2 linked regions of the Homo sapiens genome follow. The protein of the gene in region 2 purifies or fractionates together with the protein of the main gene of each other region. This does not show direct contact. Each region holds a gene or a part of one and is shown on either strand. Other genes may lie near its edges.

What was found. The genes of interacting proteins can lie anywhere in the genome.
Region 1: the proteins of VIP (region 2) and KLHL13 purify together in Homo sapiens (co-immunoprecipitation; 2 studies listed by BioGRID and IntAct, with this or other methods). This does not show direct contact.

The regions. Positions count from the first base shown.
Region 1 is NC_000023.11:118,113,276-118,121,673, forward strand, and holds the start of KLHL13 (kelch-like protein 13), read right to left. Parts: upstream 3,536-8,398; 5' UTR 3,233-3,535; intron 1-3,232. UniProt on the Homo sapiens protein: Substrate-specific adapter of a BCR (BTB-CUL3-RBX1) E3 ubiquitin-protein ligase complex required for mitotic progression and cytokinesis.
Region 2 is NC_000006.12:152,753,384-152,760,535, reverse strand, and holds the end of VIP (VIP peptides isoform 1 preproprotein), read right to left. Parts: intron 6,371-7,152; coding exon 6,248-6,370; intron 5,661-6,247; exon of another isoform or gene 5,268-5,660; coding exon 5,163-5,267; exon of another isoform or gene 4,403-5,162; coding exon 4,271-4,402; exon of another isoform or gene 3,441-4,270; coding exon 3,395-3,440; 3' UTR 3,352-3,394; exon of another isoform or gene 1,746-3,351; intron 1,627-1,745; 3' UTR 776-1,626; downstream 1-775. UniProt on the Homo sapiens protein: PHM-27 and PHV-42 are two bioactive forms from proteolysis of the same precursor protein, that cause vasodilation. PHM-27 is a potent agonist of the calcitonin receptor CALCR, with similar efficacy as calcitonin.

The sequences.
Region 1 (8,398 bases), on a different chromosome or scaffold from region 2:
ATGAGTAGACATTCTATTTATCCTCTGCAAAACATTTTTTTTTAAATTTCCCTGGATAATTTTTTTAAGCCAATGACCTTCCCCAGGAAAGACTCTTCAGTGGCTTCCTATTGTTCTGAGAATCAAACCCAAATTCTTTCTCAGGACCTCCAAGTCCTATTTATCGGTTATTGAGCTGCTTCTAGGCTCTGTAACATCTTCTTTAATCCGCCATGCTGGCTTGCTTTCTGCTCTTCAAAAACGCCAAGTCTCTTTTTCCCCCCTCAAGGCCTTGGCTCTTACTCTTCTCTCTGCAAGAATGTTATCTCGGGAATGTTCTCCCAGATCCTGACAAGGTAGGCCTATTCTCTCTTCTCTTTCAGGTCTCTGCTCAATCATCTTCTCTGAAAGGCCTTTTCTGACTTCCCACACTAAAGTAGGCCCTTCCTAGCTATCTGTATCATATTCCCCTACTTATTTTCATTGCTCTTACTACAGTCTATAAGGATCTTCTTCATTTGTTTGCTCGTTTATTGTCTGTATTCTCTGGTAGAATATAAGCACTGTGATACTCCACAAGAGCAAAGATCATGCCTTATAAGGTTTATCATTGTGCCTAACACAGGGCCTTGGCACACAAGTACCCAGTAGATTTTGTAAAATGAATTAGTAAATGAATGAATGATACATAAAAACCTGATTGTTATGAATATCAGTAACTTGAGAAAGCCATTTTTATAATTTTGAGATATTTTCTCTAGGGCTATTCATTTCTCTACAGTCTTTCCACATTTTCTGAAATAATTCCTGGAAATTTGTTGTATTATTTCATAGCAATAAAAATACATCGGTTTCAATCAGTGGATTTAAGAAAAAAATATTTTCAAGAGGTTTTAGTGGTTTATCAAACATCAATAAAAATCAAACAATTTGAAAATTGGTCAGTCTCATTTCACTACTGCAAGTCAAATTACATGAAGAAGCATAATTTGAAATGTACATAAAATGAGAAAGAAGATAATCCAATAAGTAAGTGCAGTTACATTTAGTAATATCAGAAATATCCAGTCTGCTAACCTCTAGGTGTACCAGATGGACTATCAAACACATATTGAGTCATATTGAAGATTCAGAGCAAAATGCTTATGGCTAACTCATCCACCTTTATTCTTTTCCTGGCAAATATAAATAGTCTTACTATGCAATCACATTAGCAGCAATCTTAGCTTAGATTTTGTATCAATAATAAGCATGAAAAGAAAAAAGTAAGAAAATAGTATAAACTCTTTTCCTTGAAAAAGTTGTAAGTTTTTATGTATTTTGAGAATAGTTTGCTAAGAAAATTACAGACTTAGAAAGTGGGCCTATTAGAATAAGTACCCTTTCCCTACTACATTCCATTTTTTAATAAACCTCAAGTAAACTCAGGAATTTACCAAATCAATTGGGAAACTACAAATCATCTGCAAGTTATCTAACTAAATTGATAAGCAATAGGCCTTACTTTTCTTGTGAAAACTACTTTCTTCAGAACATCAACTGAGCCTTATATAATCACACTACACTTTTTGAAGTGTGCTTATAAAAATGGCAGATTGAAAACCTTGGGCTTTTTAATAATTGAAGCTCTTATTTATCTGTTTTTTAAATACATCATTTGATGTTGCAGCAGAAACTACTCTCATCTCACTGCCATAAGACGTGCTACCAGGACAGTGAAATTTAGCCATTATCTTCATTCACAACCTGGTTTCTTCTGAGATTGCTGCCAATTAGTGCACACTGTGTCAATGGCAACACTTGGTCATACATCAGGCAAACAACTCTTTTACCGTTAAGTATGAGGATATTAATAAGAACTTGCAGTTAAGGGAGCTAATATTTTTAGATGTAAAATGATGTCATAAATGCTGAATTATTTCATTTTTCTCAGTTTTTAAATTTGAACACTAGATACAGTCTATTTCCAAAAACACAGCTGCGTATGTCAGCATGTGCTTGTTCACTGGTATTTGCCTCCACTTTGTGCTTCTCCATTCAGCTTTCTTCACACACTAATTGCAGTATGAAAGTGAGCAAATGAACCTCAGTATGGGAGCTAACACCACAACTACATGGGGAGAAAGCGATATCGCTAAGAGTGAGTAGTCTTTTTTGTAACTACGTGGTTTTAAAATATGCTGCTTTTAGAGGGTTTATACAAACATGAAATCTACTGTTAAGAAACTGTGGCTTCAAAAAAAAGAAAGCAGGTGCCCTCCAGAGACAGTTTTAAATCCCAGCGTCTCTTAGTCTCCATTCAATGTGCTTAGTTACCAGCCTATGCTAACTTGAGCGACTTTATCCCAAACCACTAAAGTCCTCTGACTACATTAAAACGATTAACATCCTAGTTTACAATTAGAGAAATGGAGCCAGGCATCACAATTCCCACCAATCCTCTCTCTCAGGCCTGCTCAGCAGCCAGGGAAGAATCAGATTTAGGACCATGTACGAAGATTGCGTACCAACATATATACATACATTTTAAGTGGCTATTGTTCTTGGACTAAGTTAATGAAACCTAGAAAGAAACTTTAAAGTTCCCTAGTTGATATTTACTAAGGCTATTTAGTGAAGGAATGATCTCATCACTTTCAGTAAACTGTAGCCTAGACTATAAGCCTCCAAGAAAATCATTAGTCAACTGTAATTAAACAAACAAACAAACAAAAAAGTCAAAATATTCAGAGCTGAAGACATTCAGAGCTAAGTTAAAAGCTTCGAGGAAGAAGAGGAGTGTGCTCCTGACTTGGGAGCCAGCAGAGGAGCCTCCTAAGTTAGAAGATTCTGAAGGAGAGATGGATTAGGAGGCACAAAGCAGAAACTGTTAGAGGGCAAGAGACAGTAGGGCCGGGGCGGGCAGCGGGACCCCAGACCGTCAGGGCAGCAACAGCGAGGCCCAGAGGAGAAGATCTTGGAGAGATGACAAAGAAGCACAGGAAAGCCGGGTTCTGGGGTCCTAGAAGAACCCAGGCGTCCGACGGAGCCAGAGGGACCGGCAGAAAGGGATGCGAAGGTGTAAGGATGAGGGCGCGCACCAGCACGCGGGAGAAAAAGAGGGGGCGGCGGGCAAAATGAAGCTGTTTCCCTGCTCCTCTGCTCCTCTGCCCCTGGTACAGATCGCAACTCCTCGCCGCGCACCGCGCAGCGCCGGGTCCGAAGGCAGGGAAGCGGCTGCTGGAGCCCCTGTGACTTCAGGACCCTGCCTCACCTTGCTCGCCGCGTCCTGGCGTCCCGCCGCTTGTCCGCCGGGTGCTGCGCTCCGAGGGCCAAAGAGGGAGTCGCGCGGCGCAGCCGGGGCTCCCTCCTGCTGCGAGGCACCAGCACCCGCACCTTCGCACCCTCTGCTCGCCCCGACCACTTCACCCTGTCCTGGCGCAGGCGGAGAGCACGGACCCTAACCCGAATGCCGCTGCAGTTATTTTCAAAAGTCCCCGTTCCAGGCTTCCCAGGAATAGGAGCTGAGCTACTGCGGCCGCAGCGGCAGAGCCTCCGCCTGACCTCACCAGGGTGTGGGGGGGCTGCTGAGGGAGGGGGGCGGGAACCCAGTTGGGGAGGGAGGGGGCAGTGGGGGGGGGAGCGCGCGGGCGGGGGAAACATGGCGGCGGGGGTGGCCCCGGCGGCGCCTGCGCGGGAGGCAGGGTGGCGGGGAGCCGGGGCTAGGACGGTGTGTGGGGTCCGAACGGAACTCCCAGGCTGTAGCGAAAGCGTGACAGGGCCGGACCCTGAAGCTGAATGACCGCTAAGTGGCCCTCACGCCTCGGAAACCGGGAGGCTCTGGTGTGAGCCCACATGGATTCTAGTGCCGGGAGGCAGAAAAAGTGAAAAGTGTCAAGTATCCAGGGACAACAGTGCAGCCGCCCCGGGTTAGCCACTCCAAGGAGGTCCACCCGTGCATTCTGCCAGCCGTGGCCTCGGCCTCCTCATAGTCACGGCGGGGCCCGAGCAAAGGGTGTGCCCTGGAAGCGGTGCCACCTCACCTCAGTGGGGCCCACGTCTCAAAATAAGCCTGACCCAGGCTCTCACACAAATATCACTCTTCTAGTGGGATAAGCGCTTCATCCCTCCCCCTCCCTGCTGCAGTACACAACATTAAGAAAGAGGAAGGATAAAAACTACAAATAACAGTTTAACATTTTACTGAGCGTCTGCTATGAACCAAGCACTGAAGCATCAACTTACCTAATTCACAGCTACTCTACAAGTTACACACTATTGTCTCCATTTTACAAGTGACAAAACTGAGGTGTATAGGTTAACCAAGTTGCCAGAGGTTACATAAATAGTAAGTGGCAGAGCGGGACTCAGGATCCCAAGCGGTGTGATTCTGGTACCCAGGCTCTTAACCACTATGCAAACTGCTTCCAAACTCTGGTGGGACTGCTCTTCTAAGTCAGAATCTTGATTCTGCTCTATCAGCCTAGCCCCCAAAAAAAACCCCAGTCAAGCCTGTTTTTCCCCTTGCTTGTCTTCTATTCATTCTTTGCCTTCTTGACGGTTACAGCCTGGGGCCACCTTCTTACACCTATTCCTTTGCCCTTTCTACTTATAATTCCAGACTCCTCCTTGGGAAAATAAAGGGAGTTTGCTCTTAGCAACCAGTTTAATCACTATTGTGATTTTTTTTCTTTGGCTGTTTTTTTCTTCTTCTTCTTCTTAAGGAAGTGATGCGGTGAGTGTGGAATCTTTATGTTTTCTAGGATTTCTCCCTCTGGGATCTGAGATCTTCAACATTGCTGACTTTGTATTTCAACTTACATACACTGAAATTCTAGTAGTAGGTTTTAGGTAAATTTGAGAATAATCAGCTACTCAAAAACTTGCTAGAACTAAAGATAATACCACATTGTTGGACTTTACCAAATAATCAAAGAACTCCAAATATACATAGAATTTGCATTATTACCTTTTACGTGCAAGTGTATTGAACCCAATTCCCCTTTGTTAACAGGAATGCTTCCACTGGCTTCTCCACTATGCTTATTCAATAATTATTGTATACCTACCTTACACACTAAATGCTTATTGGGTAGAAAGCACCTTGTACAGAAGTTTACAATCTCACTGAGGTGATATATTCCAAACAATCACTTTTAGCATGTATCAAAAACCTGGCACACAGGTTAAAAAAAAAATAAGTACAAACTGAGCTGGTGTACACTCGAGTCACTGCTTTGTCCTGCCATAAAAAGGTTCAAGTGGGGTTACTTTATAATAAGTTTCTCCCACAGAAATGCCAGTAAAAATGGGATAATCCAGTGTGGGCCAAGCAGCCCTTATCTACACAAAGAGAAAACCCTCATAGCAAGGGTGTTGAGATGGGGGCAACTGCAGGATCTGCATTTGAACTGCCAGTAGCTTGCACAGATTCTCAGTTTAAAAAAAAAGAAAAAAGAAAAAGAACTGGCAATAAGATATTACAAATATGCTTATCCAATAGAAGTCCATTGCTGTTTGGGTTCGGATGCTTTATCTGAATACTTAATCTACTGGATAGAGCACTAGACTCAGAGTCAGAAGACAATTTATGTGCTATGTGACATTAAGTTAGTGCTCTGAGAGTGTTTTCCCAAATTTCCAGTGGGGAGCAAAATAATACTGGTCTGATATGCCCCACAGCATTGTTTTGGGTTTCAAATAAGATAACACATGGGAGAGTATGTTGCATTTGGAGAAAAGGTCTTTAAAGAGGTAATTCAGTTAAAGTAATGTCTCTAAGATGGGCCCGAATCCAATATGACTGGTGTCCTTTTAAGAAGAGTTTAGGACTTAGACATATATGCACATAGAGGAAGGACCATGTGAGGATGCAGTGAGAAGGCAACCACTTGCAAGACAAGATGGGGCTTCAGAAGAAACCAAACTTACCTACACCTTGATCTTCCAGAATTACAAGAAAATAAATTTCTGTTGTTTAAGTTACCCAGTCTATGGTGTTATACTTTGTTATGGCAGGTCTAGCAAACGAACATAATGGGAAGCATTTCAAATGCCAGCTAGAGTATCCGCTGACTTAGTTATTGTTCATTGCTAAAAACACACACATTAATTATCTGTTTCCACGTGTCAGGAGTCCAGGTATGGTTTAGCTTGGAGCACTGCTCAGGGTCTCACAAGGCTGCAATCAAGTTTTTGGCTGGGCTGTGTTCTCATGTGCAACTCAGAATCTTCTTCCAAACTCATTCAGATTGTTGGCCAAATTCAGTTCCTTGCAGTTACAGAATTAAGACCCGTAGCATTTACTGGATCTAGAGGCAGCCCCTCTCCATTAGCAGTTGACAACATGGTTGTTCTACTTAGCCAAGGCCAACAGAAAAACTTCTTTCTCCTCAGGAGGGGTCCAGTGCCTCTTTTAAGGTCTTTTACCAGATTAAGTCAGGCCCACCCAAGATTATCACCCCTTTGATTAACTCAAAAATTAACTGTGTGCCTTGATTACATCTGCAAAATCTCTTCACCTTTGCCACATAATGTAACCTAATCACAAGAGTGATAGCCCAGCATATTCACAGGTCCCAACCATACCTAAGTGGAGAATGTATAACAGAAGACAAGAATCTTAGGACCATCTTAGAATTCTCCCTACCATGCCCCAAAGATTTGACAGCACCAATTAATTATACAATTATAAAAATTAACTAAGAGACCATACAGGCAGATGTGGGCACACACATAACATACATACACACACACACACACACACACACACACACACCAAAGTACACAGAGCTGGTAGCTGATCCCTAATCGGTCTAAAAGCATTTGCAAGCTTGCTGTGTGCCTAATGTGAAACTAAAAGATTTCAACTGCATTAATTCTGACTAAAAAACAAATTGAAAACTATTTAGGATACATTTTGTCTCTCTGGTAAATTTGCATTTCCTCAAAACACTCATCTCATCAATTATTGAATGGAGCCTATTATTGAATGGAATCTATTATAAAAAAAAAAACCCTCACAGGGCTTTGGGTAGCATACACAGAAGGGTCTTGCTTTAGAAGTTAGAGATAAATCTGATTAAAGATGTGTAAGACCTGTCCTGAAAACTTTAGGCTTAAATAAATGTAGAAATATACTGTATTCATAGGGCAGAAGAATTGATATCATTAAGATGTCAATTCACTCCTAATTGATTTATAGTTACAGCACAACCCCGATCAAAGTCCTAGCTGGCTTTTTCTGTAGAAATTGACAAGCTGATTCTAAAGTTCATATGGAAATTGAATAAAATAGCCAAAACAACTTTTACAAAGAGCATTAGGGGGATAATACTACCTGATTTCAATTTTTACTGTAAAGCTACAATATTCAAGACAGTGTGGTATTGATCAATGAAACAGAATAGAGTCCATAAACAGACCCACAACGTATATGGGCAAGTTATTTTCAACAAATATTCAAAAGCAATTCAGCTTTTTGAGGAACCTCCATACTTCTTTCCATAGTGAGAGCACCAGTTTATATTGCCACCAACAGTCTCCACATCCACGTCAATACCTGTTATTCATCCTTTTGACAATAGCCATTCTAACAGCTGTGAGGTGATATTTCACTGTGGTTTTAATTTGCATTTCCCCTGATGATTAGAGATTTTCAACATTTTTTAATATATTTGTTGGGGATTTGTATCTCTTCTTTTGAGAAATGCCTGCTCAGATTCCTTTCCCCTCTCTGGGTATATATTCAAAGGAATTGAAATCAGTATGTTAAAGAGATATCTGCACTCCAGTGTTTATTTCAGCATTATTCATAGTAGTCAAAACGTGGAAGCAATCTAAGAATCCATCAATGAATGAATGGATAAAGAAAATGTAGTACATATACACAATGAAATACTATACAACCTTAAAAAAGAAATTCTGTCATTTGCATCCATGACAACATGGAAAGAATTGGAGGAAATTATGCTAAGTGAAATAAGCCAGACATAGACAATACTGTATGATCTCACTTATATGTGGAATCTAAAAAAGTCAATCTCATAGAAACAGAAAGTAGAAAAATGGTTATCAGAGGCAGGGGAAGGAGGAGGAAGCATGGGGAAAGTGAGGATGTTGATCAAAGGGTCCAAAGTTTCAGTTAGACTGGAGAATAAATTTTAGTGACCTATTGCACAGCATGGTGACCGCAGCTAATAGTGTATATTTCAAAACTGCTAAAATAGATTTTTAGAATTCTCACCACAAAAAAAAGATAAGTTGGTGAGGTGATGGATACGTTATTTATCTTGATTAAATCTTTCTATAATGTATACATAGACGCAAACCTCACATTGTATCCCACAGATATGCACAATTATTATTTGTCCATTTAAAAAATTTAAAGGCAATTCAGTGGAGAAAGGGTAGCTTTTTTCAACAATGGTGCTGGAACAAC
Region 2 (7,152 bases):
TTTACTTCAACTTGTGAAAACTACTTTGCAATTACTGGTACTTCTAGACTAGTTCCTCCTGATGTGGCCATTTGTCCTAATTGTAGAAAATGAAACCAAGCAAAACTTTGCCTTATGGGGATAATGCTTCTTCATTAATGGTTAGGGTCTGACTCTCGCTCTCTTTATTATTTCTTTAAGCTTTTTGGGTGAGAATTTAAGATCCAAGCCTGGAATTATTTTTAATCGCTGCATACATTTATTCTTTCCTTGTTTTATATTAATAGAGTCTTAGTTTTAAGTTGGGTACATGATCACCCAGAAAAAGAAAAGAAAACATACTACATTTCCCAGCCTCTCTTGCAAATGACTGTGGCCATAAGACTATGTACTAGTAAAGGGGATGTTAGTATAAGATATCAGTTCAAAGAGAACTGGCATATAATATTTGCTCCCTTTTTTCTTCCTATAGCCTGCTGCCTGGAATGCATATGTGATGGCTGGAATGCTAGCTCTAATTTTGGATCATGAGGAAAAGTGCCACACCATTGGAGATGAGGGATGAGCTGGAAGGGGTGTAAGTTATTGAGGGTTTTGCTGAGCAGAACCATTATAATAACCCTGACATCTTACTTCTTGACTTACGTGAGAAAGAAATTTCTCTTTTATTTTAAGCCATCATTATTTTAGAACTTGCACACAATCAAATACCACAAAAGCTATCTAGTGCCTAGAACTTTAGAGCTAAAATGAGTTACTGCTGAATCATATAAAATAATCAAACAAAAAAATTATCTGCAATCATAAGCAAGGTCTTTATTTTCTCTCTTTGATTTCTTAAAATTATTTTGGAAAAATAGTTGTGTCTCCAAATGTACTTTCACAGAAGGAAGCTCATATGACCAAAGCAATATTCTGAGTCATTATGGCAAAAATATTTATTATTGAACAACTGAGTGTTTCATTCACTTCACATTTTACACATACTTAACACAAGCAGAAAGGGAAGTTTCAGTGTCAGAAGCAGGGGTCGTTCTCCTTAACTGAAAGACTATCAGGAGAGAGCCTTTGGTGATTAGCAATCCAAATTTGAGATTTTTTAAAACACCATTAAAAATAAAGGTTGCCTATAAAATATGGAAACACATAATATTTTCTGAAAATCTTTTTGGAAGAATGTCTTTTTATCTTCATTGTTACTATCTTAGACATTTTGAGGTTTATTTAACACAGCATTCCATCTGCTTAACATTCAAATTTAGACACACTGATTATCTGTTCTACTCTCCTGAATAGTTAAGTACACTCTATAAATAAACACATCAATTTTGCTCTATTACTACTCTTCCAAAAACGTCTCATATAATTGGAATTAACCTAGCATTTACTTATCATTAAATATATTTTTTTGTTAGAAAGGATATACAGCATATGAAATTGCAGGCTTTTTATGAGTTAAAGACAAAATTTAGAACTCTCAAATACTATTTACAATGTAAACTTCACAGTTATTACATTAGCTAGAATACATCACAACATTCACAACACAATATTTTTATTTGGTTTGGATATTGAAGTTGTTTTCTTGAATTACTTATGTAGAACTCAAAATTTAATTATGTTGCGTATCATTTTCCTTCAAGAATTCTGAAAAAGAAAAAATTGTTGCTTTAGGCATAAAATATATTTTATTTCTAGCATCTTAGTTTCATTCACTGATTTACTTATCTGATAAACACTTATTTCTCTTTGTCCCTTGTTAACAGCCTGTGGCAGGGGATCATGTCCTGGGACATACCAAGAGAGCAGCTTCTAGAGGACTGATTATCAGAGAGGAACTGGAATGTGAAAAGACGTCTAACTAACCATTATTAATGATTCACTTGTAATTTTCACTAATGGATGACCCACATGATTTCCTCTTCAAAGAATTTGTCCAAAGCCACCCATTTAAAAAAGAAAAGAATGGAGGATGGAATCTCATAAGTGATCTTACCATTTACAAAGCACAGTGTGATTAATCAATTCTCCTTTATATTTTAGTGCCTACCGTGTTTCTTAATTTGATGGAGAAGCCTTCTTATAAACACTCTTAGAAAAGCTATATGTAATTAACTTTCTTCTTTGAGCAAAGGGACTTGTTTCTCTGAGATGTCTATAAAAGATAAAGAGTTGATGTGGGCCACACTCCTGCCTCTGCTTTCTCTTAGAGGTCTAAGGGTAATTAGTGGACAAAAGCAGTCAATTAAGCAGGTATCTTCCCAGACACCATGTCCACTCTTGATGACTGTTGAAAACCTTAGATAACCCCATCAGGAACTGAGGTAAGGCCATGAATTGCCTTTAGTTTGAGCATGGGTGAATTTAATCTCCTTAACCTAGTTAGGGATTGGAATCTGGCTCACCTTCAGGTTTTATGAATAAAGTTTTATTGGAACACAGTCACTCCTATTCGTTTTACATCTAACTGTGGCTGCTTTTGTGCTACCATAGCAGAGTTAAGTCACTCTAACAGAAAATAGATGGCTCACAAAGCCAAACATATTTTACTCCATAGCCCTTTAAAATCTGCTAACCTTTGATATGGTGACAGCATGAAATTTCTTTAAGCACTTGCCCAGTATTATAGATTTTTTATGAGCGAATGTGAATATTAATGTAATGTAACTCAGGAAAGAAATATGTCTTGAACCCACATTTATATAAAATCAATTTTGATAGCAAGCTTATTACTTCACAAAGAAAAAAAGTCTATCCATGTTTTTTCTGCTCAAAAAAAATGTTGGCAGAGAATGCTATTAGAGTCATATAGGTAAAACAAACTTACAGGTAAAACAAGCTAAATTTAACTTTTGCTCTATGAAGTTTGCCATGTTTCAAGGAATATAGTTAGACCCAGAATGCCTTGATATTTTCATAGTAATGGGCCATGCTCTAATTTGGTGCTATTTCCCTATACTTAATTGAGGAGCTAACAGTCAATTGTGAGACTAAACCTTCAATTAATAAAAGCAGCATGGGTCGATCCTCAAAAGGAAAGCCCATTTTTCTTGTCAGTGTGAGTCAGCCTCCTCTGTTTTTTTATCTTGATACAAAGGTAGAAATAACCCCAAGTAAGCCAGGAACACTATTCAGATCTCAAAACGTTTGCTTATTGTGAGTGCTCTCTTTTACAAGATCAAAAAAATTTCATGAATCATTCTAAGCTGTTTACTGGGTTGGGGTCCACTGTTGTAGAAGTGTCTGTCTTGGATGAGGTCTCATGATGAGAAACTATTTAACCCTAAGATGTTTCTTACTAAGTGACTCTTAGCTACTTATATAATCAGAGACAGCCATAAGAATACAGAAGGAATGCACGAATATACCCACCACTGGGAAGTTGTCATCAGCTTTGCTCCAAAGGTCTTTTTCATCATTTTTCTAACTCTTCTGGAAAGTCGGGAGATTCTCCCTCACTGCTGCAGACCAGAAAAACATTGTACATATTAAGGCTCTCAGATGAGAAAGGGTCTAAAGAAACTATTATGACATAATGAATGTGCTGTTCTCTGTGCTCTGAAAGTGTATGGGGAGGCTAAACAATTATCTTTGAGGTTTGTTAGTACCTATGAATTATTCATCAATCTTAGAGTTTCTAAAATTATTCTCACAGAATTATCATCTAGTGGGCAAAGAGGTCATCTTGTCTGATCACACCCAAACAGAATTATCCTTAATACTCATCACTTAAACAAAAACAATTGGAATAAAAAGACAGAACACTACACTGTTTATGTATTGTGTCCAATATTTACACACCATAGAGAGATATAGATTTTACAGAATCTAAATATACAAAATACCTAATGGTTTAATTTGATTAAATAACAGTAGTGAATATGCACACGAAGTGAGTTCCATGTGTTACCAAATTGCAATTGACTATGCTTTACATGTTTTAAAAATCATCACTTTTGATGAAACTTGCTCTTAGATTCAGACTAGATGTCTGTATAGTCATCATTTTTAACACTGGCAGCATAGTAAAGTCAACTGGGGAACTCTTAAAAGAAATGTATGTCTAGGGCCACACCACCGAAGACACCGATTTCCTGGCAATTGGTTTGGGAGAAGGCCCAGACATCTGTATTTTTAAAGTTCTGCGGGGTAGTCTAATGTCAGCCAAGGTTGAAAATCACTGCTTCACGTAGTATAGCTAGATAAGTGAGATAGAGAGGTCTCCATGTGCAGCTTCTATTTTGAAAGTCAGTCATGATTCCTCATTTTAGCAAGTTCTCTTTTTCTTTACCTCCTCTTTCCATTCAGAATTGAGTTCAAATATTTCTTTACAGCCATTTGTTTTCTAAGGCGGGTATAGTTGTCAGTGAAGACTGCATCTGAGTGACGTTTGACTGGTACAGGGTCTTCTGAGATGTTACTGCTAAGGAACATGAGGAAAAGGAAATCAAAGAGTTTTCACAAGAAATGATAAATACACACATGTTCCAGGTTTCTTGGAGCCACATAAAAAGCAATTCCCACCCAACTAATTTTCTATCATAAAAAGACTAAAAGAAAAATACAACTAAACCTAAGGATGAAGGAAAGCAAGGAATCATCTGCCATATTTTGGCATGGCCTGGGACTGTTTTATGACACATTCTGTACAGCTGAGCAAATAATTCATCCAAAAATAAAAATTTGGGAATAGCTGAAGTTGTGCTCTGCCATTGGGAGAAATTTTTTTTTTTTTTAAAAAAAACATAATTACTTCTTTAGAAGCTATGCTACCCTGAGCAACGTCATCTAAATATTTGACTGTTGGCCATTTGGAATTCTCCATTTAATTTGAGCAGGAAGTAAAAAGAATATTCTGTTTGACCTTAAAATTTACCTCAGTCTGTACTATCTCTTTTTGATTGTTTTACTGAGTCTTGTTCAATTTGATTGCAGATTGCTAAATGATTGCTACTTGAGAAAAATGTGTGTCTGGAGTCAATGAATATGATATTATGAAAAAGTCTTAGTCCATGGGCTTGATAGATGTTATTGAAGAATACAAGTTATTTCATTTAACTAAATTAAACATTATCAACGAGTTTTCAATTTCAAACAAAGTAAATAACTTGTTAAGAGTGAAAATACAATATTCAGATTGAATAATGATAACATATTTTATAAAAATAATAAATTCTCTTTACCTAACACGTTTTCCCATAAGAGACTCAAGGTACTTTTTGGCAGAAAGTTGACCCAAGAGTTTACTGAAGTCACTGGTGAAAACTCCATCAGCATGCCTGGCATTTCTAAAACAAGGAAGAAAAAAATAGCTATTATTTTGTAAATGGCTTTCTAGAATATTATTATGGCTTATTAAATAACAAAAAAATTATGGGCTTATTATGAAAGCTTCTCATTAAAACTAAAGTTCAAAAGGAGATTTCTTAACACCCTAACAAAAGAGATCTTCTAGTCACTTATATCAAGATATACCCTATATTTCTAGCCCAAGACACTGAAAAATTAAAGAAACAGGCATTTCTAGGAGCACATTTCAATATTCCTCCATGGTTGAATCTTTATAACTATTTCTTTCTAAGAAATATTGGTGTAAAAATATGATCTATTTAAATTAGCTGCTATTTGTACATGGTGCTTTGTGTCTGCCCCACTGAATAAAGACATTCACAATGGGAAAATATTCTGATTTTGGAAAGTTCATAAACCCCAGTACACCTTTTTTTTTCTTTTTCCAAAATATTTGGAAACAAAATCTCTTAAGATAGAGAAGGCATTAAGGCCTATCATCCCACCTTTTCTCTTTCAAATGAAGCACCTTTTATACTTTGTCTGTACCAAGTACTATAGAGCTACTTGGTCTGTACTTGAAATGATGCTCTAGACAAACAGCTCTATGAATGAACAGCTCTATCAGGTATCTTTTCTTTATATAGAGACAAAACTCCTTGGCAACTCTTCCATCATTGGAATGCTAAATGCTGTACTTTTATCAGAATTGGTACAATCTGTGATGTTGGAATTATGTGCAACAGAATGGAAGTGAATGGTGTGTTCATCCTGGCTTGTTACAACCTTTCAGTATGAAAATTATGTACAGCTGTAAGATCTGCAGTAAATCAGGATGAATGAAGCCATGACACATAGAAACCTCTAGTGTTTTGCTATCGGAATAGCTTCATGGTGAGATAAAATAAGCACGTTTATAGTTCTTAAACACATTTTCTAAAATAAAACTCATTGGATAGTTTTATAAAAATAAACTCACCTGGATACATCATAATAGGGTGTGTCATTTTCAGCTAATGCATTTTGCAACATGTCAATGTCTTCTTTTAATGAAACTTGATCAGGTTCATTTGCTCCCTCAAAGGGTATTCTGTCACCCAACCTGATGGGGAAAGTTACACGAGAATAATACATTCTTTTTTCAGAAGACAGTGTGTATGGTTCCGCAACCATTTAAAATAAGATACTTAGACTCTTGGGAAGTATTACCCAGTCATAATATGAGAATAGCATAATTTGACTTAATGGCTCATATAGTTAATGAGAGTATAAATAGGAAATTCCTATTATCCTATAAAGTAGATGCCATATGACTTTTATAAGCTGAATATACAAAACACAAGAGCTACTTAATTCAATCTTATCAGAGCATTAAGCAAACTATACTTCTTTGGTGTAATTTACTATGCCAAGAATATCTTCACTTTGCAAAGTCAAATTTCGTATGTAGAAATATTTTATGCAAAATAGAAACTTGCAAAAAACTAATATTGAATGAGAACTGATAACAATTTATGGATTTGGTGATGTTCAGTATTACCTGTTCCAAACATCTCTGAAGAACAGAGTATTAACTGCTTCTCTCTCTCTCGACCCCCAAGCTTTGCTTCAAATATTTACTTTGGCATTATATATTTCTCTGTATTGACAGAGTTCAAAGAATGTCTCCATAGATGGATAGCTCATCTATGAAGATGAATTTGAATTCAATAAGTTTTATGGGGCCTTCTTTTTTCTAATCTTATGTATTAACACAACTTTAATAAGGGATGTACAATGTTACACTGAAAGACTAAGAATAGTCAAATGCATATATGGAATATGACTATATTTATGGATGCATGCATATTTCAATCACCGGCAACTCTTATAATTTTGTGTGTG